Homo sapiens: one gene and its partners. The protein of the gene in region 3 purifies or fractionates together with the protein of the main gene of each other region. This does not show direct contact. Each region holds a gene or a part of one and is shown on either strand. Other genes may lie near its edges.

What was found.
Region 1: the proteins of FAM131B (region 3) and ARFGEF2 purify together in Homo sapiens (affinity purification with mass spectrometry; 2 studies listed by BioGRID and IntAct, with this or other methods). This does not show direct contact.
Region 2: the proteins of FAM131B (region 3) and CACHD1 purify together in Homo sapiens (affinity purification with mass spectrometry; 2 studies listed by BioGRID and IntAct, with this or other methods). This does not show direct contact.
Region 4: the proteins of FAM131B (region 3) and GNPAT purify together in Homo sapiens (affinity purification with mass spectrometry; 2 studies listed by BioGRID and IntAct, with this or other methods). This does not show direct contact.
Region 5: the proteins of FAM131B (region 3) and MYO9B purify together in Homo sapiens (affinity purification with mass spectrometry; one large-scale study listed by BioGRID and IntAct). This does not show direct contact.
Region 6: the proteins of FAM131B (region 3) and BLTP3A purify together in Homo sapiens (affinity purification with mass spectrometry; 2 studies listed by BioGRID and IntAct, with this or other methods). This does not show direct contact.
Region 7: the proteins of FAM131B (region 3) and SLC25A14 purify together in Homo sapiens (affinity purification with mass spectrometry; one large-scale study listed by BioGRID and IntAct). This does not show direct contact.

What each region holds. Positions count from the first base shown.
Region 1 is NC_000020.11:48,966,711-48,970,210, reverse strand, and holds part of ARFGEF2 (brefeldin A-inhibited guanine nucleotide-exchange protein 2), read right to left. Parts: intron 1,065-3,500; coding exon 934-1,064; intron 1-933. UniProt on the Homo sapiens protein: Promotes guanine-nucleotide exchange on ARF1 and ARF3 and to a lower extent on ARF5 and ARF6. Promotes the activation of ARF1/ARF5/ARF6 through replacement of GDP with GTP. Involved in the regulation of Golgi vesicular transport.
Region 2 is NC_000001.11:64,676,129-64,679,628, reverse strand, and holds part of CACHD1 (VWFA and cache domain-containing protein 1 isoform 1 precursor), read right to left. Parts: intron 2,735-3,500; coding exon 2,618-2,734; intron 1,471-2,617; coding exon 1,319-1,470; intron 35-1,318; coding exon 1-34. UniProt on the Homo sapiens protein: May regulate voltage-dependent calcium channels.
Region 3 is NC_000007.14:143,356,307-143,359,713, forward strand, and holds part of FAM131B (protein FAM131B), read right to left. Parts: exon of another isoform or gene 3,244-3,407; intron 3,213-3,243; exon of another isoform or gene 3,114-3,212; coding exon 3,020-3,113; intron 2,719-3,019; coding exon 2,521-2,718; intron 1,118-2,520; coding exon 974-1,117; intron 717-973; coding exon 244-716; 3' UTR 1-243.
Region 4 is NC_000001.11:231,247,712-231,251,211, reverse strand, and holds part of GNPAT (dihydroxyacetone phosphate acyltransferase), read right to left. Parts: intron 252-3,500; coding exon 69-251; intron 1-68. UniProt on the Homo sapiens protein: Dihydroxyacetonephosphate acyltransferase catalyzing the first step in the biosynthesis of plasmalogens, a subset of phospholipids that differ from other glycerolipids by having an alkyl chain attached through a vinyl ether linkage at the sn-1 position of the glycerol backbone, and which unique physical properties have an impact on various aspects of cell signaling and membrane biology.
Region 5 is NC_000019.10:17,204,777-17,208,276, reverse strand, and holds part of MYO9B (unconventional myosin-IXb), read right to left. Parts: intron 3,015-3,500; coding exon 2,941-3,014; intron 2,318-2,940; coding exon 2,125-2,317; intron 2,030-2,124; coding exon 1,901-2,029; intron 1,599-1,900; coding exon 1,493-1,598; intron 1,165-1,492; coding exon 1,033-1,164; intron 1-1,032. UniProt on the Homo sapiens protein: Myosins are actin-based motor molecules with ATPase activity. Unconventional myosins serve in intracellular movements. Binds actin with high affinity both in the absence and presence of ATP and its mechanochemical activity is inhibited by calcium ions.
Region 6 is NC_000006.12:34,858,083-34,861,582, reverse strand, and holds part of BLTP3A (bridge-like lipid transfer protein family member 3A), read right to left. Parts: intron 3,460-3,500; coding exon 2,012-3,459; intron 1-2,011. UniProt on the Homo sapiens protein: Tube-forming lipid transport protein which probably mediates the transfer of lipids between membranes at organelle contact sites. May be involved in the retrograde traffic of vesicle clusters in the endocytic pathway to the Golgi complex.
Region 7 is NC_000023.11:130,363,919-130,367,418, reverse strand, and holds part of SLC25A14 (brain mitochondrial carrier protein 1 isoform 1 precursor), read right to left. Parts: intron 2,792-3,500; coding exon 2,667-2,791; exon of another isoform or gene 1,879-2,666; coding exon 1,743-1,878; intron 1-1,742. UniProt on the Homo sapiens protein: Transports inorganic anions (sulfate, sulfite, thiosulfate and phosphate) and, to a lesser extent, a variety of dicarboxylates (e.g. malonate, malate and citramalate) and, even more so, aspartate and glutamate and tricarboxylates.

The DNA of each region.
Region 1 (3,500 bases), on a different chromosome or scaffold from region 3:
CCCGAGTGGCTGGGATTACAGGCATGTACTAGCATACCCAGCTAATTTTTGTATTTTTAGTAGAAGTGGGGTTTCATCTTGTTGGCCAGGCTGGTCTCGAACTCCTGGCCTCAAGTGATCCACCCGCCTTGGCCTCCCAGAGTGCTGGGATTATAGGTGTGAGCCACCGCACCCAGCCTATTTTCCTAATACCTATCACAGTATTAGCAGCATTAGTAATAGATGAATTGAGGATTATTATTAATGACTAATGACAGGAACAATAGAGATAATTTATAAAGTACAAGGCCCCATGCTCAGGACAACACCGATATTTCATTTAATCAATCCTGTAAGATGATTTTCCATATTCCCATTTTTCAGATGAGGCTTGGCAAGTCATATAGCCAAGGAACTGCTCTCAAGTGGAGGATCCAAGATCTAAATGCAGCTCTCTCTGGCTCTGAAGCCTCTGCTTTCTTCACTCCACAGCGCTGACATCCTTGTAGTAGTTTGTTTACTACAAAGAAATGTTTGGCTTCCCTGTGTCGAATCTGGGGCTTACATCTGTATCGATGAAGCAGAGGTTTCCAACAGAACAGGGAACTGAGGTTTGCAGGCATCCTGTCCCTCCACACCCCACATCAAGAGATTCAATCCACTAGCTAGTAAAAATGTGTTTTTTATGTGTTCAATAAACAGACTTTTTTAGCATTCATATGCCAAGAAAAGCAAAACTGGGCAAAATCTTGGTTGGTGGGGATACAGAGACAATTCCATATGAAAGGACTCTAGAGACTGCATGAGTCTGAAAAGTTGTAAAACCGTTCCTGCACTTACACTGACAAAGAGACATGACACTGAAACTTCTTGGAACAAGGGAAGTGTGAAACACAGTACCATGTGCTGCTGGATCATTGGACTGAAGGTGGCCAAGAACTGCTGTCTGCTTACTTTGGGTCTGGAGGGCCTTCACCAAGGGGTTTCATGGACAGCTTGCACAGGGAGCGGAACACAAGGAAGGCATCCTTCTGCAGAACGTGGGAGAACCTGGCAGCCACTTGATGTCCTTGTGCATCCGATTCCTAGGATCAGAAACAAACATCAGCTGGGTGTGGTGGCACCCACCTGTAGTCCCAGCTACTCCAGAGGCTGAGGCAGGAGGATCCACTGAGCCGAGGAGGTCAAGGCTGCAGTAAGCCATGATGGCACCATTGCACTCCAATCTGGGGAACATAGTGAGACCGTATCTCAAAAAATAAAAAGGGAGAGGACAAAACAAAAGCTAACTCTTATCAAAAATTAGAAATGTAATTATCTCTTGGAAATTCAAATTCTTCTATTTAATAGAGAGATGAGGGATGTGGGGGAGGGAAGGATATGACAAAATAGGAGCTATGGAGAAGCCATCACAGCAATTCTACAACCTTGTTCCTTGTTCTTCAGAGTTGGTATGGGTGGTTTAAAATGAAAAATGATCAAAAGTTAAGCTGTAAAAAAACCAAAACTAATACAGGTAATTATACTAGCTTGGGTAAGAAAGATATTTCTAAGAATACTATTGTAAGCCAGGTGCGATGAATGGCTCACGCCTGTAATCCCAACACTTTGGGAGGCCAAGGTGGGCAGATCAGTTCAGGTAAGGAGTTCCAGACCAACTTGGCCAACATAGTGAAACCTCATCTCTGCTAATCCCAGCTTCTTGGGAGGCTAAGACAGGAGAATCGCTTGAACCTGGGAGGTAAAGGTTGCAGTGAGCCGAGATCGCGGCACTGCACTCCAGCCTGGGTGACCAAAAAAAAAAAGTAAAAAAAAGAATACTATTGCAACTATTGCAGGATAAACGGGTAACAAAGTATAGGTATTACGAAATAAACTTTTTTCACCTAAAAAAAAGGTAAATTACATTTAAAAGCAAAACATAAAAATAAAATTTTTTGGCCAGGCACGGTGGCTCACGCCTGTAATCCCAGCACTTTGGGAGGCTGAGGCGGGCGAATCACGAGGTCAGGAGATCGAGATCATCCTGGCTAACACGGTGAAACCCCGTCTCTACTAAAAATACAAAAAATTAGCCAGGCGTGGTGGTGGGCACCTGTAGTCCCAGCTACTCAAGAGGCTAAGGCAGGAGAATGGCATGAACCTGGGAGGCAGAGCTTGCAGTGAGCCAAGATTGCGCCACTGCACTCCAGCCTGGGCAACAGAGCGAGACTCCAACTCAAAAAAATAAAATAAAAATTTTAAAAACATATAATAAAGATTAATATCCCCCACATATAAAAGTTCTCATAATTCATTAAGGAAATATGAAAACCTTCCTCCAAAATGAAAACAACATGGATAAGCAATGTACCAATAGATGCAAATGATAAAGAAATCTAAATGACCTTATTACTCATCATTAGAGTAGGAGCTTTCTCCTATCAGACTAGCAAAGATTTGAATAAAGGCTGCTGCCTAGTTTTAATGAGGGAATGGGAAAATGGGTATTGAGAGATTAAAGGTGGACAGGTATTCAAGTAGTACCTTCCCAGAAGACTGACTTGGTGTTAAATGTCAAAAGCCTTAACACTTCCAACTCCCACTCTCTTTCATTCATTTACTTATGAGACATGATCTTGCTACAGTTATTTATTTATGAGATGGGGTCTCGCTATGTTCCCCTGGCTAGACTTCTGGGCTCAAGCGATCCTCCAGCCTCAGCCTCCTGAGTAGCTGGGAATACAGAAGCATGCTATTACACTCAGCTAAAACTTCCAACTCTTGAACCATCAATACTACTTGCAGGCATTTATTCCTAAGAAAGAATTAAGAGTTATCTATAAGGATATTCATTATAGAACCATTTCCTATGATAAAACTGGAATAATCTAAAAACCCAATAGGGAATTGGTTAATAGATTACAGTGATCCATACAGAATTTTACATGGCCATTAAAAATTTCTGTTAGCTCTACATATACTGACAGGGGAAGATGCCCATCATATAGTGTTGAGTAAACAAAGCAAATTGCAGCTTAGCATATAACACGAGTCCCTTGTATAGATTTAAGCGCATCCTCAAGGGGGGAAAAAAACATTATTCTGGTTGGATACAGTGGCTCAAGCCTGTAAACCCAGCACTTTGGGAAGCTGAGGTGGGCAGATTGCTTGAGCCTAGTTCAAGATCACCCTGGGCAATATAGTGAGACCATGTCTCTACAAATAATAATAAAAAATTAGCCAGGTATGGTGGTGCATGCCTGTAGTCCCAGATACTCAGGGGGCTGAAGTGGCAGGATCATTTGAGCCCAGGAAGTGAAGGCTGCAGTGAGTCGAGATCACACCACTGCACTCTAGCCTAGGTGAGAGTGAGACTGTGTCTCAAACAAACAACAAGAACAACAAACCCTTATTATTTTTATGTATAAAGCACAGATATACATGTAGCATATGGATATCCAGTTTATTGCTGGCATTACAACTTAATGGGGAATGATGATTAGGAAAAAATGTCTACAAAGTTTTCTTGGAGGAAGGGG
Region 2 (3,500 bases), on a different chromosome or scaffold from region 3:
CTTTTAATCATGTTTAATGTGATCACCTCATCACCTTCAGTGAAAGAGCAAGAAGATGTTTCTTGTTAAGATTTCCCAAGTGGGGAAGAAAGTAAGGATGGTGAGATGGGAGGGAATACAGTGGGAAGGGGGTTGGCGGAAGATAAACAGATGCTTAGTTAGGCTTTGAGTTCCTCAAACATGACGCATGGGAACGTGGGAGCGGAGGCTACATTTAATTCCTGGTTCTCCAGTGTTGGTTGCTAGGCAGAGCAGGAGCACAAATGGCAAGGACTGCTGGGAAGAGTGAGCAGACCAGAAGAATTGCTTACACAGGCAGCATCCAACACCAACAGAGTCCTAGCTCCCTGGGGTATGAGTTACTCTTGGAAGAGAGGAAAAGTCACCTAGTACAGAGTAACCACTGAAATAAAAGGCACCAGGTCCAATAAATATGCGCTAACCGGATCAAGTTTCGAAGCTTATGGGTTTCCTTTAAAAGGCCATTTGTGCTTTCCAGATAGGAAACTGCAGGTGAGCATAGAAAGTGATTTCTCAGAGCCAAGTCACTTTCACATATGTACCCTCACCTAGTTCAGCAGTAACATACAAGCTCAAAATCCTTCCCCACATATGAGCTTTTCTTCTAGACAGGCTGATGTAAGTGATGTTAAAAATCAAGGTATTAACTAAGGATTTAAATATTTGACTCTACTGCCATCTAAGAATTAGGCCTTGGTGCTAATTCTGGAAAGACTGAAAAAAAAAATCTCAGGTAAGCAATCTAATCTTGGCAGTATTTTTGAGGTCTTGGAGACTGATCCCAGGGGCTGTCCACCCTGTGGTGTCCTTGTGCTTCATCCTAAGCTGTCCCAGATGCACTGGGTAGCTCTGGCTTCTGTTGACTCCAAGGCCCCAAATACTGATTTGTAGCTATAAGACTTCTACCTTGCAAAAGTTGTGAGTGAAGGTTTTAGCAGGCACTAGACATACAGTGGTCACTCCGTACACGGCCCTGTGCTTCTGACAGCTGGCGTGCATATCCAAACAGACTCCAGAGTTTGGCCATGCAGAAACCAGTCCTTATATTTATCAGAACAAGCTTTATGGGAATGAATTCCAGGCTTGTAAAATTTGGCAGCACAGATGGCCACTCACTCTCTCTGCATAGAATATTTAGCCAGTTCTGAAGGTAATTATCTGCCTTGGTTTTGTAACTAAAGACTACCAGCAAAGGAATCAGGGAAGTTGGGAAGAGGATTATTTTAAGATGTCCTAGCATATAGGCAGGAAATTGTATATTCAAGAATCAAATTGTTGGGGCATCTAACAAACATACCTATTGCTCCCATGTCATCAACGTAGGGACTTTTGGCTCCCACAATCCCCCCGAAGCATTCTTTCTGGGGGGCACAGTAGGGTTTGTCCAGGTGAGTCTTTCCATCACTGTCCACCATGCACCATTCACAATCCAGCACCCCAAAACAGTCCCTGCCAGAAAAACAATACTTAGTCTTCTATAAAGCAGTGTGGGGCAGGGGACAGCACTTAAGTGTGGGCATCAGACAGTTCTCAGGATCTCCATTACTTACTAGTGCTGTGAATTTCTTGAGCTTTAGTTTCCTTTCCTTATAAAATGAGAATAGCAATAGACTGCCAGGGAAATAACTGTTTTATGCCTCTTAACAACTTGGAAAGGAGAGAAATAAAACTGCTCTCTGTGAATTAAATAATGACATCCACACATCATGGGGCTATTCAAAATCATCTTACAAGACCAAACAGAAATGACCCCAATGTTTGTTAGACTCTGGCTTAACATCCCCCAAGTGTGGGGTCATTTAAAAAAATAAAAAAAAAAGTCCAATAAGTTTGGAAATACTTGGCCAGTCACCACAGGTTTCCTCACTGCCAATTTCTCAGAGCCTTTAGTGTATTACATGCATTGTGACTGTCTCAAGAGAATATATGCAGTGTCAGCATTTCCCAAACTTAATTGACTTGGGGCTACTGTATAACATCCCAAATTAATCAGTTTGATGCCACAATTCCTTTGCTAAAATACACACGCAAAGCAGAGTAAGCTATCCCTCTAAACACTGTTTAATAAAATGGCAAGCTACAGCTACAATAAGCTAAAAACCAACTCCCCTTTACTTAGTCTACCACAGCCACTATTTCCATAATGTCTAGTCCCAAACTCCTAATCCCACCTGAGGAGTGGGGAGAGAGCGGGGAACATGTAGTTTTTAGTTCTCAAAACTATCATGAAGCAGATGTGTTTCCTAAGAAAGGAAAATAAATGAGCTTCAAAATATCACACCTAGAGCCTTGACCACTGGGTTCTGCTTCTGGACCTCAGGGGTTCCTCCTCCCTTGCCCTGCTGCTTCATGCCATGGCCCCTCACAAGTCTTTTATTTCAAGAAAAACTCCCATTCACAGATGAGGCTACTAACATATGGTACACACGCTAAATACGGGTAATAAGTGGGAACGAGACAACATTTAATCTGGTGGGTAAAGGCTTATGGAAATCAGTTTCAGATCTGAAAAACTGACATACCTTTTTAAAACACGAAGAGTAGGAATAATAAATATTAGCTGGAAAACCTCAATTCTTTACTAGATTCTGCTTACCCACTTTCCAGCCTCTGACTGCACCTGCTGTTGACACACTGGTGAAGAGCATCTTGCAGGCCAGGGTCAATAGCTGTGTATGTCACCGGCTCCTGGTGGACCTCGCAGCTGGGGTTTCTGTGCAGGAGGTAAGTCTGGAGGTTAAGACGACCACCGCCCACATTCCAAACTCATGCTCCTGGTCCTTAACAGCAGTCAGACAGATTTGGGTTTGAATCCTGGCTTTGCCACTTAGTGTGTAACCTTGTATCAATCACTTAACAACTCTGAGCTTCAATTTACTTATCTTTATATACAGTAGAAGTAATACAAATAACCTAGGCAACATGATGAAACCTCATCTCTACGAAAAGTACTACTACAGCAACAAAATTTAGACAGGCTTGGGAATCACATGCCTGCAGTCCCAGCTACGAGGGAGGTAGAAAGGTGGGAGGATTGCTTGAGCTTTGGAGGTAGAGGTTGCAGTGAGCCATGATCGCGCCACTGCACTCCATCCTGAGCAACAGAGTGAGACCATGTCTCAACAAACAATTATACACACACAATACAAACACACATGACACTCTTAATTTCTAGAGAAGGGGTTTATTACAATTTATTTTCCTGGTGTTAAAATCTGTCACTGATATAAATAATGCTGTAGAACACATCATACGTGTGTAAAAAACACTTGCATATTTATCACAGGGTTAATTAGAACACTAAGTGACTTAATGTGCATAACGTACTCAACACATGGTAGACACTTAGTAAATGCTTGAAACATTCTCACATTTTTTTGTATGTAGCACATACACTCTTAATACTTTTACAGCAGTTAAATTTAAACCTTGAAACAGGCATCATTTTATGGCACTACGGAGCTTGAATTCTGGCTCAC
Region 3 (3,407 bases):
CAGCCACACCAAGCTCACGGCCATCTAGTTGCCCAGGTCTCAGTTCCCAGGCCTGTGGGTTTCTAGAGTGTAAGCCTGGATAAAATCCCATCCTGGTCCTCCATTTCCAGGAGAGGACTGGAAGCTCCTGGGTTCCCCAATGTTGTCTGCCCAGTTTCAGCTGTACTGCTGGGGGGAGGGAGGGTATGGGTCACAGCCATGGCCCTCAGGTGGGAGTGGAAGGCAGGGCATTGGGGGAGGAAACTAGTTGTTGGCCTCGCCTTCCTCCTCATCAAAGGACTGCACACCTGAGGATGTGACGTCAGACACCTTCCGGCTGAGAGCGGTAGACATCTCAGGGTCTTCTCGTGGGGAAAGTGACTCCAGGTCCCGGCATCCCGCATCCTCTTCCTCCTCAGGTGCCAATGGCCTCTTCTCCTCCTCAGCAGGGCCCCTTGCCAGGTCCACTGCGCCTACCCCCGGAGCCCAGTCAGTGTCTCCCCCCAGCAAAGGTGGAGGCTCCAGAGCAGAGTATCCTGAAGCTGGTTGGGAAGGTCCCATTTCATGCAAGCTGGGTTGTGAGTCATCAAATGCAGGCCCAAGATAGGATCCTGTGGCCGGAGAGGCAATGAGGGACTGATCGCTGGCTTCCCAGGCATCTGACGACCCCAGACAGTACATACCCTGGGACACGTAAGAGTGAGGCCATCCATCCATGGGTGCTTGAGCCAGGGCATCTGGAAAAAGAATCATGGAGGTCAGTGGGGCCACAGAATGTCAAGGGCAGGAATGACAGCACAGACAGCACAAGAGACAGCTAAGAGACAGCACAGAGAACTGGCAGTAAGACACAGAGTGCACAGTGAGTAGGGAGGACAATGGGAAAGCTGAGATGGACAAGGAAGTCTTAAAAGAACGGAGCTGAGTGGAGGCAGCTGAGATAGTTGGGGAGGCCTCATAGGCTCCAGAGTTTGGATTCTGGAACATCTCTCACCCTGACTGTCCATCAGTTCCTGGTAGTTGTCACTGTAGTTGCAGCCCAATGGCTCCTGGGTGGAGTTCACACTCATGTCCTCACCATCCATGGAAGACCAGGCCATGAGTGTGGCCTCAGAGATAGCAAACTGCTCCATGACGCCTGGGGGAAGAAATGCAACAACCACAAAATACCTCAGGGAATCCTTAGACATGTGCGTGGGGTAGGAAAACATCTTAGTGCAGCACTGTTCAGTAGAAATATAATGCAAGCCACTTATATCATTTTAAATTTTCCAGTAGCCACATTTAAAATTAAAAAGAAACAGGTTAAATCAATTGAAATAATAGATCTTATTTAATTCGATATATAAAAAGATTTTCATCTCAACATATAATCAAAATAAAAGTTATTAATGAGATATTTTACATTCTTTTATTTATATGAAGCCTTTGAGATCCAGCTGGTATTTTATACTTATAAGCACATCTCCATTCAGAAGAGCCACATTTCAAGTTCTCAATAACCACATGAGGCCAGTGGCTAATGTATTGGACAGCACAGCCTTTGTGTATGTCCCCAGAGAAGGGAGAATTGTAGGGGACTTCCTAAAAAATCAGATTTAGGATTCCTAGGGGAAAGAGTTAGGGGTCTTCTGATGAGATATCCTAAGAGATTCAAATTCGAGATTTCCAGATATTTATCTTTGGAGGTTTTTAGGAATTGCAGTCTAGAGAGTAGATTTCAAGATCAACAGAGAACCCCCAAGAGAGCATCGTGGGCTTGTGGGTCCACCATAATATAAAACTGAAATTCAAGGGATTGGAAGGAAAAGGGGATGGGTAGACCTGGGGATCCCTATTCTAGTCAAATCCATGAGCGTGTTGAAGCTGGTACTGCTCCTGCCCCCCACCCTACATGTTTGTCACCCTGTTCACTGATATTTCTCCTCCCACCCATACCACCAACTCAATACTTCCTTTCTCTTCCAGACCTATCCCTTTCTAGGCATCTTATTTAGACCTGCACTACAGCTTGGCCACTCTTGTAGGCACACTGCATGCCTGTTATCAGACCTACACTACTTTCCTGGAACTAAACCTCTTCTGTAGGCCTCCCGTCTCTCACACAGTTCCCTTAATCTTCTAGTGGTTGTCACAAGTAATGAGTCTAGTAGGCAAATTCATGACTCGAAATGCTAAAGGGCAAAGGCTAAAAGAGATCCCCAAGGCCTTTCTTTCTTTCAAAGACCAAGGTCTCCCCATTTTTTTCCCTGCACTTGAGGGAGTTCAGGTTTGGATAGTCCCGTGATGAGGAGAGAAGGCATCTGGGATGGGTGGACCCACAAATCCCATCTAATTACACGCATTTTCTGAGATGATTATAAAAATATGTTTGAGGGCACTTATTTGAATTACCACATCAAAATACTTAGAGCTGTTTGGGAAATGTGAATCTACGGTCAAAGTATGGATGGAGCTAATCCTGCCACAGGGGATCAGGTTGGAGGGTCGGTCCCTGGCCATCCTGCAAATGTGTCTCTTGAGGCTTTAGGGTACCTGTACCTGCTAGAAAACGTGCCTCCTTCTCGCCATCGCTGAGGTCGGAGTAGGCATCCGTATCCCTGCGCACGGACTCATGGCTGTGTTGTGGCTGAACAGCTGGTGTCTTCCCCCAGCCCTGCCACTCAATCATGTGGGCCACCCGGCCTTGCCCCATGGCTGTGGGCTTTGTCACATGGTCCTTCATGCTCCGTGAGATCCCTATGGGGCCAGACATTTCCCACATCCTCCAGAATATCACACAATACCCATAACCAGACCCTCCCAGTTCCTCCCACCCCAGCCCCATGAGGCTCCATCCCACTGGGCCAGGCTCCCCTAAGGACTCCATAGATGGGGTAGTGGAGGGAATGGCCTGGAGGATGGGAGGCTTGACAGAAGGGTGAATAGGTCAGGGGGTGGGGATGAGGGTCTTCATCAACCTCGAAGGAGCAGGGAGACTGAGCCAAGGAGTCTGTCAGCATTATTTTGTCTGAAGGCATTCTTACATCAGGAGTCTCACCTGAGAATGATGACTTGGCCAGGGCCCCAATGCCATAGGCGTTAGAGTTTCGCTTAAGCTTCGGAAGAATGGAAGTGGTGTCCTCCATGGAGAGCTGGGATGGGAATGTGGGAGGAAGGGCAGAGGAATAAGAAGGTACGGGCGTGCTTTATACATGGAGGAGGTTCATGGTTTCCAGGAAAAAGCATTCGAGCTAGGGCAGATGATAAGAAAAGCTACTATACCCAAGAGTCCCAAGGAGGGATATATCCCCAGTGCTCTGGAAAACTGGGGCACAGGTTGAGAACGTGAGTGCTCACAGTGCCTATTGGAGCCAGGGAATACCGTGCTGGTTGGAAGGTGCAAGGGAGAAGATGAGGAGGAGGAGTTCGGGAGGATGGGGAGGTCT
Region 4 (3,500 bases), on a different chromosome or scaffold from region 3:
AAGTTATAGAATTAAGAACTTGTTGACAATGAACAAATCTGGCCATGGTTGAAGAGGGAATCACTTACCTGTTTAATGACATAATGAATCTCCTCAGAATTGAGAACACTACATTTAATATCAATTGGTTTACATGGAGTAATTCCCTTATAGACAAGAGGTGTGTAGCATTTCATTGCAAATTTCAAGTCACTGACATGCCTCCTCTCTTCTAAAATATCTTCAAACTCATCCCACTTTTTGAGCTCCTTCTGTGGATAAGGCAAGAAAGTAATGAGCACATACTGTAAAATAAATCAGGACAGATTAAAGACTACATTGGTAAGGTTTCATCTTTGACAAAATATTACTCTATGACGTGAACAGGAGCAGAGTGTTCTGATGTTAGATTTTCATATAGTAAAAAAAAGAGATGTAAAGAAAATTAGGATCAATAAATTGATACTGAGTTATCATAATATTTTATTATATTTCTGATTGCTATCATTGTCAGTATCTCTTTGGGAAATTTAATGAAGACAGCAAAGATGAGACATTAAGCCCTAGAGTAATCTGATCAACTTCACATGGTTTCACCTGCCACACTGACAAACCTGTTCCATTTGCCTCTACTTAGCTTTAAAAATTACATTAAAACAAACATTTGAAACCCAAATTATATAAAATAAAACAAAACTATATGGGTGCAAATAAAAGGAAAAATCATTCAAGAAACAAGCGCTCCAATAAAAGGTACTGTTGAGCAGTATATGGCTGTGATAACTTTCTTTTCTTCTTTTCGAGACAAGAGCTTATTCTCTTGCTCAGGCTGGAGTACAGTGCCACCATTATATAGCTCACTACAGCCTTGAACTCCTAAAGCAATCCTCCCTCCTGCCTCAGCCTCTCGAGTAGCTAGGATTACAAGTGCATACCACCAAGCCCAGTTAATTCTTAATTTTTTTTGTAGAGACAGTCTTGGCTGGGCATGGTGGCTCATGCCTGTAATTCCAGCACTTTGGGAGGCTAATCTCAATCCTCCACACTTCAAGCAGGATTGCTTGAAGCCGGGCATTCAAGACCAGCCTGGGCAACATAGCAAGACCCCATCTCTACAAAATAAAATAATAATAATAATAATAATAATAATAAAGAGGTACAGTCTTGCTCTGTTGCCCAGGCTGGTCTCAAACTCCTGGCTCAAGCAATCCTCCCACCTTGGTCTCCCAAAGTGCTGGGATTACAGGTGTGAGCTATTGTGCCTGGCCTGTGACAAATTTTTTATTTCTTATTCAGCCCCTGCCATTCAGCTTCTATCCAACCAGCCCCTGAAACTGCTCTTTACACGTCTACCAATGACTTCTGATTTGTTAATTTTTTAAAAAGTACTTTTCTGATTACAAAAGTAGTAGTAATGATAATAATTAAAGCTAACACGTATAACTGCTTACAAAGAGTCAGGACACTTGTCATATGTGCTGACACTAAAGTGTTAGGCGCATTCTAAATGCTTTAGAGGCTTAGGCACCACTCCTCTATGAAAGCTCTCCCAGAGTCCCGAATGGAATCATTCATATTTTCCCTGTCACTTCTTTTCCCACTAACTACACCTATTATGGTATGTATCCCACAACACTGTAATTGTATGCATGTCTGTCTCCCTACTAAAATGAAATTATCTCGAAGGTAGGAAAGTTCATTTTCTCTTTGTATTTCCAACATCTGGTTTTATTTGGAATATAGCATAATTGGTCAATAACTGAACTCAATAACTGAAAGATGAAATGTTGAGGTAATAGAAGAAAATACAGAATGTTAACTGAGACCACAATTTGGCATAAGAATATAAGTGGCAGCAAATAGCATTTATGAGGAGTTTATAAAAGGGTGGCAGGTGAAACATACAAACATGAACATTTTTATGTCCATATATAGAGAGACTATATGAAGGAAAGGTCTTTTCACTGTTGGAGTTCTCATGTAAAGTTGCAACCCTTGTAATAAATACTCTTGCTTATAAGGCTGGAAAACCTTCTCAAATCCCACATTTCTCATTAATAAATATATAGTTGTATCAGTTTGCGCTCTATAGACTGCAGCCAACTACCATTATATCATTTTAGGGCTTAAAAACAAGAACTTCCCATTTAGTGGTCCTGGGAGTGGAAGGAGAAAAGGATCAGAATCAGCTGGGGATATATGTATACACATATACAGTCATGCACTGTTTAACAACAGAGATACACTCTGAGAAATGCATTGGTAGGCAATTTCATCATTGTACAAACATCACAGAGTGTGTTTACACAAACTCAGATGGTATAGCCTACTACATACCTAGGCTATATATAGTATAGTGGTTAGCCTATTGCTCCTAGGCTACAAACCTGTACAGCATGTTACTGTACTGAATGCTATAAGTGATTGTAACACAATGGTACAAATTTACACATATAAACACAAAAAAGATACAGCAAAAATACGATATTATAATCTTATGGGACCACCATCATATACTGACTAAAACGTTGTTATGCATCATGTGACTCTGTGTGTGTTTGTGTGTGTGTTTATACGTATATATAGCTGACCCTTAAACAACACACATTTGAACTGCACAGGTCTACTTACATGAGGATTTTTACATTTAAGTTTTTTTTTTTTTCAATAGAGACGGGGGTCTTGCTATGTTGCCCAAGCTGGTCTGAAACTCCTGAGCTCAAATTATCTTCCCACCTTGGCCTCCCAAAGCGCTGGATTACAGGCGTGAACCACCACGCCTGGCCTATATGAGGATTTTCTGCTTCTGCCACTCCTGAGAGGGCAAATCCAACCCCTCCTCTTCCTCCTCCTCCTCAGCCTACTCGATGTGAAGTGATGAGGATGAAGTGGATTAATGACGATCCACTCCCACTTGATGAATAGTAAATATATTTTCTCTTATGATTTTCTTAGTAACATTTTCTTTTCTCTAGCATACTTTATTAAGAATACAGTACATAATACACATAACATATAAAATAAGCCTTAATGAATTGCTTATGTTATCAGCTAGGTCAACAGTAGGTTACTACTAATGAAACTTTTGGAGAGTCAAGAGTTATTGTGAATTTTCGACTGTGCAGAGGGTTGGTGCCCCCAACTCCCACGTTGTTCAAAGGTCAACTGTACATATATAAACACAGACATGTATGGGAGCGAGGGAGTCTTCAGGATAAGAACCCCTAAGGGAAACTAGCAGGCATGTATACTTTGAAAAAGCTTGCCAAATACGATCATCTACAATCCTTCCGTGGTTCTGTTACTTGCAAGGTGGACTTACATCAAGTCCACCTGTCTTAGCATATGACCCCAGGCTCTTCATGACCCCCCACCTCCTGCCTCATGACCATTCCTCTTAATCCAATAGTCCAGCTATGCCAAGACCTGCAGTTCCCTAAACACACTACGTGTTCCCAGATCTCTGATTCAAGTTGCTCCCTCTACAGAATAGCATTCATTCTCAAATATCTGAATGCCTA
Region 5 (3,500 bases), on a different chromosome or scaffold from region 3:
ACCTCCACCTCCTGGGTTCAAGCAATTATCCTGCCTCAGCCTCCCGAGTAGCTGGGATTACAGGCGCCTGCCACCACACCTGGCTAGTTTATATATATATTTTTTATTTTTTTAAATTTTCTTTTTGAGACGGAGTCTCACTCTGTTGCCCAGCTGGAGTGCAGTGGTGCGATCTCAGCTCAATGTAGCCTCCACCTCCCAGTAGCTGGCATTATAGGCACATGCCACCAGGCCTGGCTAATTTTTGTATTTTGTTTTTTTTTTTTGAGATAGAGTTTCGCTTTTGTTGCCCAGGCTGGAGTGCAATGGCATGATCTCAGCTCACTGCAACCTCCGCCTCCTGGATTCAAGTGATTCTCCTGCCTCAGCCTCCCAAGTAGCTGGGATTACAGGCATGCGCCACCACGCCCGGCTAATTTTGCATTTTTAGTAGAGACAGGATTTCTCCATGTTGGTCAGGCTCGTCTCGAACTCCCGACCGCAGGTCATCTGCCCGTCTCGGTCTCCCAAAGTGCTGGATTACAGGCGTGAGCCACCTCGTCCAGCCTAATTTTTGTATTTTTAATAGAGATGGGGTCTCACCATGTTGGTCAGGCTGGTCTCAAACTCCTGGCTTCAAGTGATCCACCCACCTCGCCCTCCCAAAGTGCTGGGATTACAGGTGTGAGCCACCACGCCTGGCCTAATTTTTAAATTTTTTGTAGAGACAAAAATTTAAATTTTTATATTTAAATAAAAATTTGAATTTAAAAATTTAAATTTGGAAATTTAAATTTTTATATTTAAATACAAATTTCCAATTTCAAATTTTTTGTAGGGTCTTGCTATGTTGCCCAGGCTGGTCTCGAACTCCTGGCCTCAAGTGATCCTCTTGCCTTGGCCTCCCAAAGTAGCTAGGATTACAGGTGTGAACCGCTGCACTCGGCTCTGGACTTTTCTTACACATTTATTTACACAGGGATGGATGGAGCTGTCGTGGGGTCCTGGGTGGGGCTGCCCTGAGCATGCCTCCGGGGCAGGGTGGGCACTCACGTGGTGATCTTGAGGACGTCCTTCATGCTGGTCAGCGGGTCCGAGTTGTCAGGGCAGCGCAGGAGGCAGGGTGCGAAGATAATGGCCAGCGCCCCAGGTGACATGCGGTTGACATCCTCGAGCAGGGCCACCCTGCACAGCCACTGGCAGTTAGAGGATGGCTAGGGCCGAGGGAGGGAGGTACCAGGGAGCCCCGAGACTGAACTTCTGAGCCCTGGGGTGGCTGTTGGGAAAGCAGTGCCACAGCCCAGCACTGGGAGATGCTTCCGCAGCACAGAGAGGTACCTCAAGGGACCCGGGCGGCCCAGCAGCCTGGCCCCCTCCCAGAACCCCCAACAGTGGTCTGCATCCTGGTTCGAAACCACCACAGAACGCCAGCTCGGGTCCTCCTGGGAAATGCTGCCTCGCGGGTTCCCAATGCGACCCTAACCCCACAGAGGGCAGGTGGGGAGGCACTTGCTTGACAAGGTGGAAGATGAGTCTCTCCAGGGAGTTGTGGTTGGCTTCTGGAAGGTGCTCCAGGACGGCATAGATGGCAGCCAGCTGCTCCTGCTTCTCCGGCAGCTCTGCAGGCAGTGGGGTTTGAGGACGTCAGCTCCCAAGGGTCCCCAAGGTGCCTGTTGTCCCCACCAACACGACCTGAGATGCACAGGTGCCATCCACCCTGTGGTGCCCAGGCAAGAATGGATGGCTACAGAGGTGTCCTGGCCCCACCCCAAACTGGGGACCCGGTTTGGCTGGGCCGACTGCTTTGGGCCTCAGTTTCTCAGTTTGTGAACTGGGTGGTCCTGCCTCCTGGGCTGGTCACAGCGAACGCTGTATCCTGGCTGTGGCCACCTGCTGCCACCCGCACCGCCATGGGGCTCACCGACGGCTCGGAGGAAGTCGCCGTACTGTGCGAAGGTCATGAGGGGCTCGGGCAGCTCCCGCAGCCACTGCTTCAGCACCCCTGTGATGGCGTGGATGGGGAAGTTCTCCAGCTTGACTGCTGCGGGGTCTGTGGGGTGGGTGGGGTGGGTCTGGTGAGCGGCGCACTGGCAGGACGGCTGTGCCTGGGGCCTGGCACTGCACCCACCTGCCCACAGCGCCCACCTGTCTGCAGCGCCTGCCGGAGCTCCCGAGTGCGGTTGGCAGCACCCGACTTGCGGTAGAGGCCCTCGGTGTACAGGCCGTGCATCTCCACGTGTTCCAGGAGCTTCTCCAGCACGATGGGCACCGAGGCCTTGTCGCTGGTCAGGCTGTCTACGCACACGCCGAAGTGGCCAGGCTCAACGCCTGGCTCGCCCTGCAGTGCCGGGGTTGGGGGTCAGGTCTGGGCCTGGCTGTCTTCCTCTCCAGCTGTCTCTGGGGGCCTCTGCCTCCTGGTCCCGCACAAGGCCCTCAGGGCTTCCTCTGCTGTTCTGTCCCTCCCTGTCTCCTTCTGCGTGGTTGTTGGGGGTGTGGGGCTGCAGAAGTCAAGGCCAGCATGGCAGCCACTGGGCAGGGGCTTCCTTTGTAGGCCACCCAAGGCATGGGTGGTCCTTCGTGGGGAGAGAGCTATAACCTAGCCCCCACAGCCACCTCACAGAAGTAGACCCTGACTCTTGCTGCACCCCCAGCACCCAGGACCCCAACCTTATGCACAGAGTTGGGGGGCCTCCCTCTGCATGGCTCAGGACTCTCTCAGGAGCAAGGATGAGCAGGGCTGGGGGAGCTGAGACACACACACAGGCCTGGGCCCTGCCTGAGGGCCTCAAGGAGTTTGTACAGAACCGGGGACAATGGTGTGTTCTGCAGAACCAGAGGCCACAGCCGCCCCCTACTGGCTGCTCAATGCTTCGCTTGGCCCTCACATCAAGCACCACCTCCTGGTGCACCTGGCCGTGAGTGGAGTGTCATTGTAGAAAGTTCCAGGCCTCGTACACTCACCTTCCTCCCGTAGGTGTAGGAGCAGTGGCTCTGAATCTTGTGCACGCACTTCTTGTGGCAGGTCATCTTGCACACTAGGAGGTCCACAGGGTGGGAGTCACAGAGGGTGCTGGGGACCCCAGATTCCTGCAGCCACCCACCCAGCTGGCCGGGGGCCGCCAATTGCCTTCTTTTTTTTTTTTTTTTGAGATGGAGTCTCACTCTTGTTCTCAGGCTAGAGCGCAATGGCGTGATCTCGGCTCACTGCAACCTCCGCCTCCCGGGTTCAAGTGATTCTCCTGCCTCGGCCTCCCGAGTAGCTGGGATTACAGGTGTGCGCCACCACGCCTGGCTAATTTTGTATTTTTAGTAGCGACAGGGTTTCTCCATGCTGGTCAGGCTGGTCTCGAACTACCGACCTCAGGTGATCTGCCCACCTCGGCCTCCCAAAGTGTTGGGATTAGAGGCGTAAGCCACTGCACCTGGCCTGGATTGCCTTCTTTTTGGTTTCTCTTTTTCTTTTTGAGACAGGGTCTCACTCTGTCACCCAGGCTAGAGTGCAGTGGCACTATCATAGCTCA
Region 6 (3,500 bases), on a different chromosome or scaffold from region 3:
ATACAAAGATTGGAAGAAAATACACCCAAATGTAAACAGTGGTTATCTGTGGATTGTTACAAGTGATTTTTATATTTTCTTCTTTACTCTCTTATTTCCTACACTGTCAACACGATAAACACAAACCATTTTTATAATTTAAAAAATTAAAATTATAGGCCAGGCACAGTGGCTCACACCTGTAATCCCAGCATTTTGGGAGGCTGAGGTGGGTGAATCGCTTGAGCCCAAGAGTTTGAGACTAGCCTGGGCAACATGGCAAAACCCCATCTCTACCAAAAATACAAAAATTAGCTGGGCGTGGTGGCGCATGCCTGTGGTCCCAGCTACTCAGGAGGCTGAGGCAGGAGGATCACTTGAACCTGGGAGGTCGAGGCTGCAGTGAGCAGAGATCGCACCACTGGGCAACAGAATGAGACCTGTCTCAAAAAAAAAAAATTAAAAATTAAAATTATGACAAAAGTGATCAGAATATGGACAGCCTAGCCCTGTGGAGTATTTACACCTATAGGATAAAAGGAAGAAGAGAGCAGCCAAGGAAAAAGAAGACTCCTTCAGAGAATTGAGAGTAACTGGGTGGGGTTACAAATATTCAGAATGAACTGATCAGCAATGTTAACTACCATAGAGGAGTCCAGGAGAAGGGGGACTGAGGAAAGGCCACGGGCTTGGGCAGTTAGGAAGTCACTGTTGATGTTTTAAAAGGGCTCATTTCACACACCTTTCTTTTCTCTTTTTCACCTCTGCTCTTTTTCCATCTCCCTTACTTGTCTCCATTTAGAAAAGGCAGCACATTGGGTGATTAGAAGTCCAGGCTTTTAATCCTTGCCCCACCACTCACAAGTTGTGTGATCTTGTGCAAGTTTCTTACCTCTCTGAGCCTCAGTTTCCTCATCTGTGAGATGGGGATTGATATTAATACTTGCCTTATAGGGCTATTATAAAAATCCAGTGGACCAATATTATAAGTACTTAGGACTGTGTCTTGTCAGGCAAAGAAGGCACTCAGTAAATGTTGGCTAGTATTATTATACAACTCGACCCTTGAAGTTTTCCTCTCCTTCCTCCTTGCTGTCTGTCCTAGCAGGTACTAGCTCACCCACAGGCATTAGAGACCCACTTAAGATAATTCACTTAGACAAAAGCTCTAAATGCACTGTTTTTATACCATGGTCTCTAAACCACAAAGTGTTCCAGGAAAGACTTCCCTTAGACTCTATCTTTCCTAAAACCATGAGGCACCCATGGGAAAATCGATACTTTTCCACTCGTCTCACTGTGCATTTCTGTGTTTTCCTGTTTACTCCCTACTCTATCTCTGGCGCTTAACACAGAGCCCAGCACACAGAAAGCGCTCACAAGATACTTGCTGAATGGATGAAATTCTTCCTTCTCTATTACTCTGACAGACACTGATAAGGTACCAGAAAAAACAAGTCCAAAGCCACAACTTTTCTATTTACAAGATATAGGATATCTATGAGCTCATCCTCTCTAAAGCCTCAGTTTTCTCAGCTATAAACTGGGGGTACAAATGTCTGAGGCCACCTTACCAGGCTGCTGTGGGGATCAAATCAAACAAAAAAATTAGATGAAAGCCCACTGAAAATAATATTATATATATGCCATTATTATTATTCTGATATAGCATATTTGTATCAATAATTGTGAAGCAAGCTGGGTACAGTGGCAGGTGTCTATAATCCCAGCTACTCAGGAAGCCAAGGCAGGAGGATTGCAGAGCCCAGCAGTTCAAGACCAGCCTGGCTAACACGGTAAGGCCTGTCTTGAGGGGAAAAAATAGTGAATCAGTGAAAAAGGAGATAATCTGATTCTAAGAAGCAATAAATATTGGCTTGAAAACTGCCCATTAAATAGGCCATTCTATGCATTCTCCTGGACTATATGGTACTTCCCAATCTAGAAATGCACATAGTAAGAGGCCTTAAACCCAATGATCAGAACTAGGAGAAGGAGATGGGATGAGTGAAGGAGGTACAGAGCCACTTACTTGGCTGGGGGCAGGGACAACATCTTGTGCATGGTGGAGGTCATTCGATCTCTGCCCAAACTGAAGGCATCCTTAGTCAGGGACACAGCTTCCTTGGTGAGGTCCATGGTGGCATGTAGAGCCTCCTTGGTGGCATCCTTGGTCATGTGAATAGCACTTGACAATTCTCCCTCAATGTTCTTCAAGGGGATGAGCTCACCCTGTCCATTCACAGCAGTCTCCCTGCCAGCTGGGGGCTTCAATGCAGCTGGTGAGCTGGAGGCTTGGGTTCTGCTCAGTTTCTTGGCCTGTAGGGACTCTACTGCCTCATGGCCCTTCCCTGCCAGCTGCTGGGCAAGTGGACCTGAGTCCTGCAGTTCTCCATTGCTATGTGGCCTCTCCTGGGATACATCCTGATTTTCAATGCTACTTTCCTCCAAGACCTTCTCAGGGCTTGCTGGGCCCTGGTCTGATGAGGCATCAGACTTCAGTTCCCGATCCTCTGAAGGAGATAGCTCTGAATCTACGAGGCTAGTGCTATCTGAGCCTGCAGAGTCAGCATCGACAGCACCGGGTGCAGGATGCATAAGCAGAGCCACTTCAGCACTGGGAAAGAGAACTCCAATGCAAGCTGTCTGATTCTGCAGGGGAGACCCAGTCATTGACTCTGTATCCTTAGTCAGCTGCTCCTGAAGCCTCTGCAGCACCTCCTTCAGGCGAAGCAGAGCCAAGTACTGGTAGTGGTCAAGCCTCACGCGGACATGGGCCGGGGAATGTACAAGCATATGAACATCTGCTACATCCTCCAGCTCTGTCAGAGGCCCTTTGTTGTCCATACCACTACTGCCTTCTTTCAGAATTTCCATGACTTCTGTAAGTCCTGATAAGCTTTTCAAGTCATGTTCAGTCTTTGACCGCGGATGGGACATAGAGTCAGGGGCAAGAGCCTCAGACTGGACAGGACTTCCAAAACTGGCTGATGGTTTCAGCCTCCCCTCTGAGGCCAAAAGAAGCTTCCGTGCCTGGGCTTGCTGCCAGCGGAGGGGTAGGCAGGCCCAAATGGACAGGGGGAAGGGGGCTACAAAATTCAAGGTATGGCCTTTGAAGTTTTCTGTTCCCTCAAAGTCCAAGGAGATCTGGGTAAAGTGGACAGACCAGAGATCCCAGGAAGCCTTAGGTCTCTGGGGAGGGAGGGTATTAGGCTGAGGCAGGCAGGAATCCATCTGAAAGGCATGATGCAAAAAAAGCATGTGCAGAAGGCTAAAGCCACCTGGAACCTTAGGAAAGTGATCATAATTGGAATGAAAGAACTCAGCAGCAGCAAAACCCCGGAAGAGACTCTGGAGGTCTGAACAACTACAATGTGGAGCATGACGTGTATTGGTGGCAATCATGCCTGACGCAGAGAAGACAAGGGCCTGGGGACGATGCAACTCTGCCCGCTCTCTCTTTTCCAGTGGAAAGCTCACCTTCACAGAGAAAATGAAACACAATTCAGAATGGTCATCTG
Region 7 (3,500 bases), on a different chromosome or scaffold from region 3:
AAGACGTGCTCCTCTTGTGATGCCTCTGTCAATGAATGTCACCACCTGGTCACCAACTCCAAAAACCCAGAACTTATCTTTGACACCTCTTTTCTCCCACACCCCTCCACATCCAGTCAATCAAATCCTGCTGACTCTATCAACTAATTCTTTCTTGACTCTGTCCCACCTTCTATATCTCCATTATCATGCTCAAGTTCAGGCCTTCATCCCCTCTTTCTCAGATTACAAGAGCCTTCTAATCAGCTTCCCTATCTGTAGGTCAGTGGTTCTCCAAGTGTGGTCTCCAGACTAGCAACATCAGTATTGCCTGGGAATTTATTAAAAATGCAAATTTCCAGGTCCCACTCCATACTTACTAAATCAGAATCTGGAGATGGCTCCAAGTGAACTGCAGTTTAACAAGCCCTCCAGGTAATTCTGATGCATGTTAAACTTTGAAGAACCATGGCTCCAGGCTTATCCCCTTAGTAGTCTTCAACCTTAGGTGAACATTGCAGTCACCTGATATAGTTTAAAATATTGACACCTGGACCTTACTCCCCAGGTTCTGAGTTAATTGGTCTAAGGTAGAGGAGGGAGCTGCGAAAGTTCTCCCAAGTGATTCCAATGTGTACCCAAGATGAGGAACCACTGTGGTAGATCCAGTCTCCATAAAGCCAAAGTAATCTATTTAAAATGCAAAGCTAATCTGATTAAAAACTTTCAACAGCTCCCTGACAAGTTAAAAAAAAGTCCAAGCACCTCAATATAGCATTCAGTATCCTTTATAATCTAACCCTTGGCCACCAATATGAGGAAAGCACCATAGTGGAGAGGTAAATGTCAGTTTGAGGTCAAGTGATCTGAGTTTAAATTCCAGTTCTCCCACTTAGTAGCTGTGAAACCTTAGGCAGCTTACTTAATCTTTCAGTGCTTCAGTGTCTACCTCGTGGAGTAATGGTGAGGATTCAATGAACGAATACACATAAGTCTCATAAGGACAGTTGCTGACACACAAAAAAGCACTCAGTGGATATGAGTTATTGTTATTCAAGATGCCACCATCTACAGGGAGCCTACCTCAATGCTTCCAAATTGAGAACTCTTGAGTTTATCACTTATCAGGCTGTACTGATGATCCGTTTGTATACCTATAGTACTTTTGTAATAACTGTAATTTCTCTCTAACTACTAAAATGGTGTCTAATATGTAATAGTTGTTAAACAAAACTGATAACAGGAGAGAAACCATATGGCAACATCATATTTTAGCCTCAATTTGTTTTCAGTAGCAATAATATCACCAGTAATGATGTAATACTTTTAGAATATTCAGTTCCCACAAACACAACAGCAGGAACTTTCAAAGCCAAAGTGAACAACAGCATAACCGTGAACTGAAATAAAATACAGGCTTTTTTCCTTAAGTATTGAGTTTTCTATTGCAGGGTCTCTGTGTTGTATGAAGTAGGCAAATGGGGGATATATTGTCTTTTCTATCAATAATTCTACATGATACTATTAATAAAAGCATCCTGTATTTTAAAGCATTCAAATGGGAATCATTATATTAAGTACCACTGCAAATTAGCAGATTGCTAAGGAGACAGCTTTTCTACCTGGGAATAACTGAGAAGCTACTAAAAAAATATGATTCTTTCATCTTCAAAATGGTATGTAGCAACTAATAATAAGAACTGAAGGAAGGTCTAAGACATCAAAGAAAGCCAAATTGTAACCCAAATCCACAATGTACTTACCTTTAAAATACCATCAACAGTGCCCTTATAGAGATCCACATGTCCCACGATTGCCCTCTGGTTCATCATGCGAGTTCGAACCACATCAACCGGGTTGGAGGCCAGAGCCCCAGCCAAACCACATGTAAAGCTGGAACTAAGAGGAAAAGTTTAAGTAGATCGACCCCACTTTCACTCCCTGCCCACTTAAACAGAAATTAGGCCAAACGTAAACTGTACAATATAACTCAGACCCATCAGATAAAACCTGGCACTTGGCCTTTCGTTACAATCTAAAGAGACAGGAAATTTTTCTAAAGAGACATCATTCAAAGGCTGTCCCTTCAATTTTCAATCTGAAACTCAGCCTTTTTTTTAAAGGAGAGTTTCTAAACCTAACAAGATTCCTAAGTAGAAAGTATCATGCACCATGTATTAGTTACATAAATTTTTCAAACCACAGCATCACATGCCAAATGCATTTGAGTAACAAAATTATCATAAAGGTTGCAAGACAAAGAAAATGTAAAATGAGATCAGTAACAGTCTTTAGCCAAAAAACTGTGCTTTAGTTTCACAGACCTTATTTACCCCTTTTTTTCTGATTCCCACTGAGAAAAGTTTGCTTTCTCAAACAAAATTAACCAAAGCAAATAATAGATGTGCTTATTAGATATAGAAGCTATGTATGGATAAATGTAAATCAAATAGACCTCTGATAGGCTGCTGTATTAGACAATGTTCCCAAGTACCCAAGCCCCCATAGCACCTGGCATTTCTGTGAAGTATAAAGTGTTCATAAGGCTTGAAGTTCTGATAATAGGAGAGACAAGGGAATTTAGGCCATACGTACCAGTTATCAAATTCCACCTGAGGATTTCAGTAAAAGAGGCTTTTTGTGCTCAAAATGCTGGAAATAAAATGAGCACATCCCATCCTACTTACACGAAGTGAGTTAAAATTGTATCGCCCATCATTCCTGACAATATTAAATGCTTCTTAGTAATATCATAGACTGGTAGCTCTACTCCTACAACGATGGCAGCACGCTGAGCAGTTGGAACCACACCCTACGAAACACAAGTGACATTAGGCACCAAGGAAATACAAAGGGAGTGATGTCTTAGAGTGAACAAAATAGGTCAGGAGTTGAAAAGTAACAGAAAAATACAAGTCTGAAGTACAGACGTCACTCTTTCAAATCAATGACTAATAATGGAACATATACAAATTTCCAATTCACTTGCTATACTAAAAATAAAATAATTGATATGACACCCAAAGCACAAAAGACAAAAGAAAAAAAAAAGATCAACTGGACTTCATCACAATTAAAAACTTTTATGACTCAAAAGACACCACTCAGAAAGTGAAGAGTCAACATACACAAAGGAAAAAAACATTTGCCGCTCATATATCTGATAAGGGACTAGTGTCAAGAATATATAAATAACTCTTACAACAAAAAAGGCAAACAATCCAATTTTAAAATGGCCAAAAGACCTGAAGATATTTCCTTCAAAAAAGATACACAAATGGCCAATAAGCACACGAAAAGATGCTAAACATCATTAGTCACTAGAGAAATGCAAATCAAAACCACAAGGACATACCACTTCATACCTACTAGGATGGCTATAACGATTTTTCTTTTAAGTAAAAGAAGGCCAGGCACAGGGGCTCATGCCTGTAATCCCAGCACTTTGAGAGGGTGAGGCAGGAGGATCACTTGAGGAGGAGTTCTAGACAAACCTGGGCAATACAGTAAGACTCTATCTC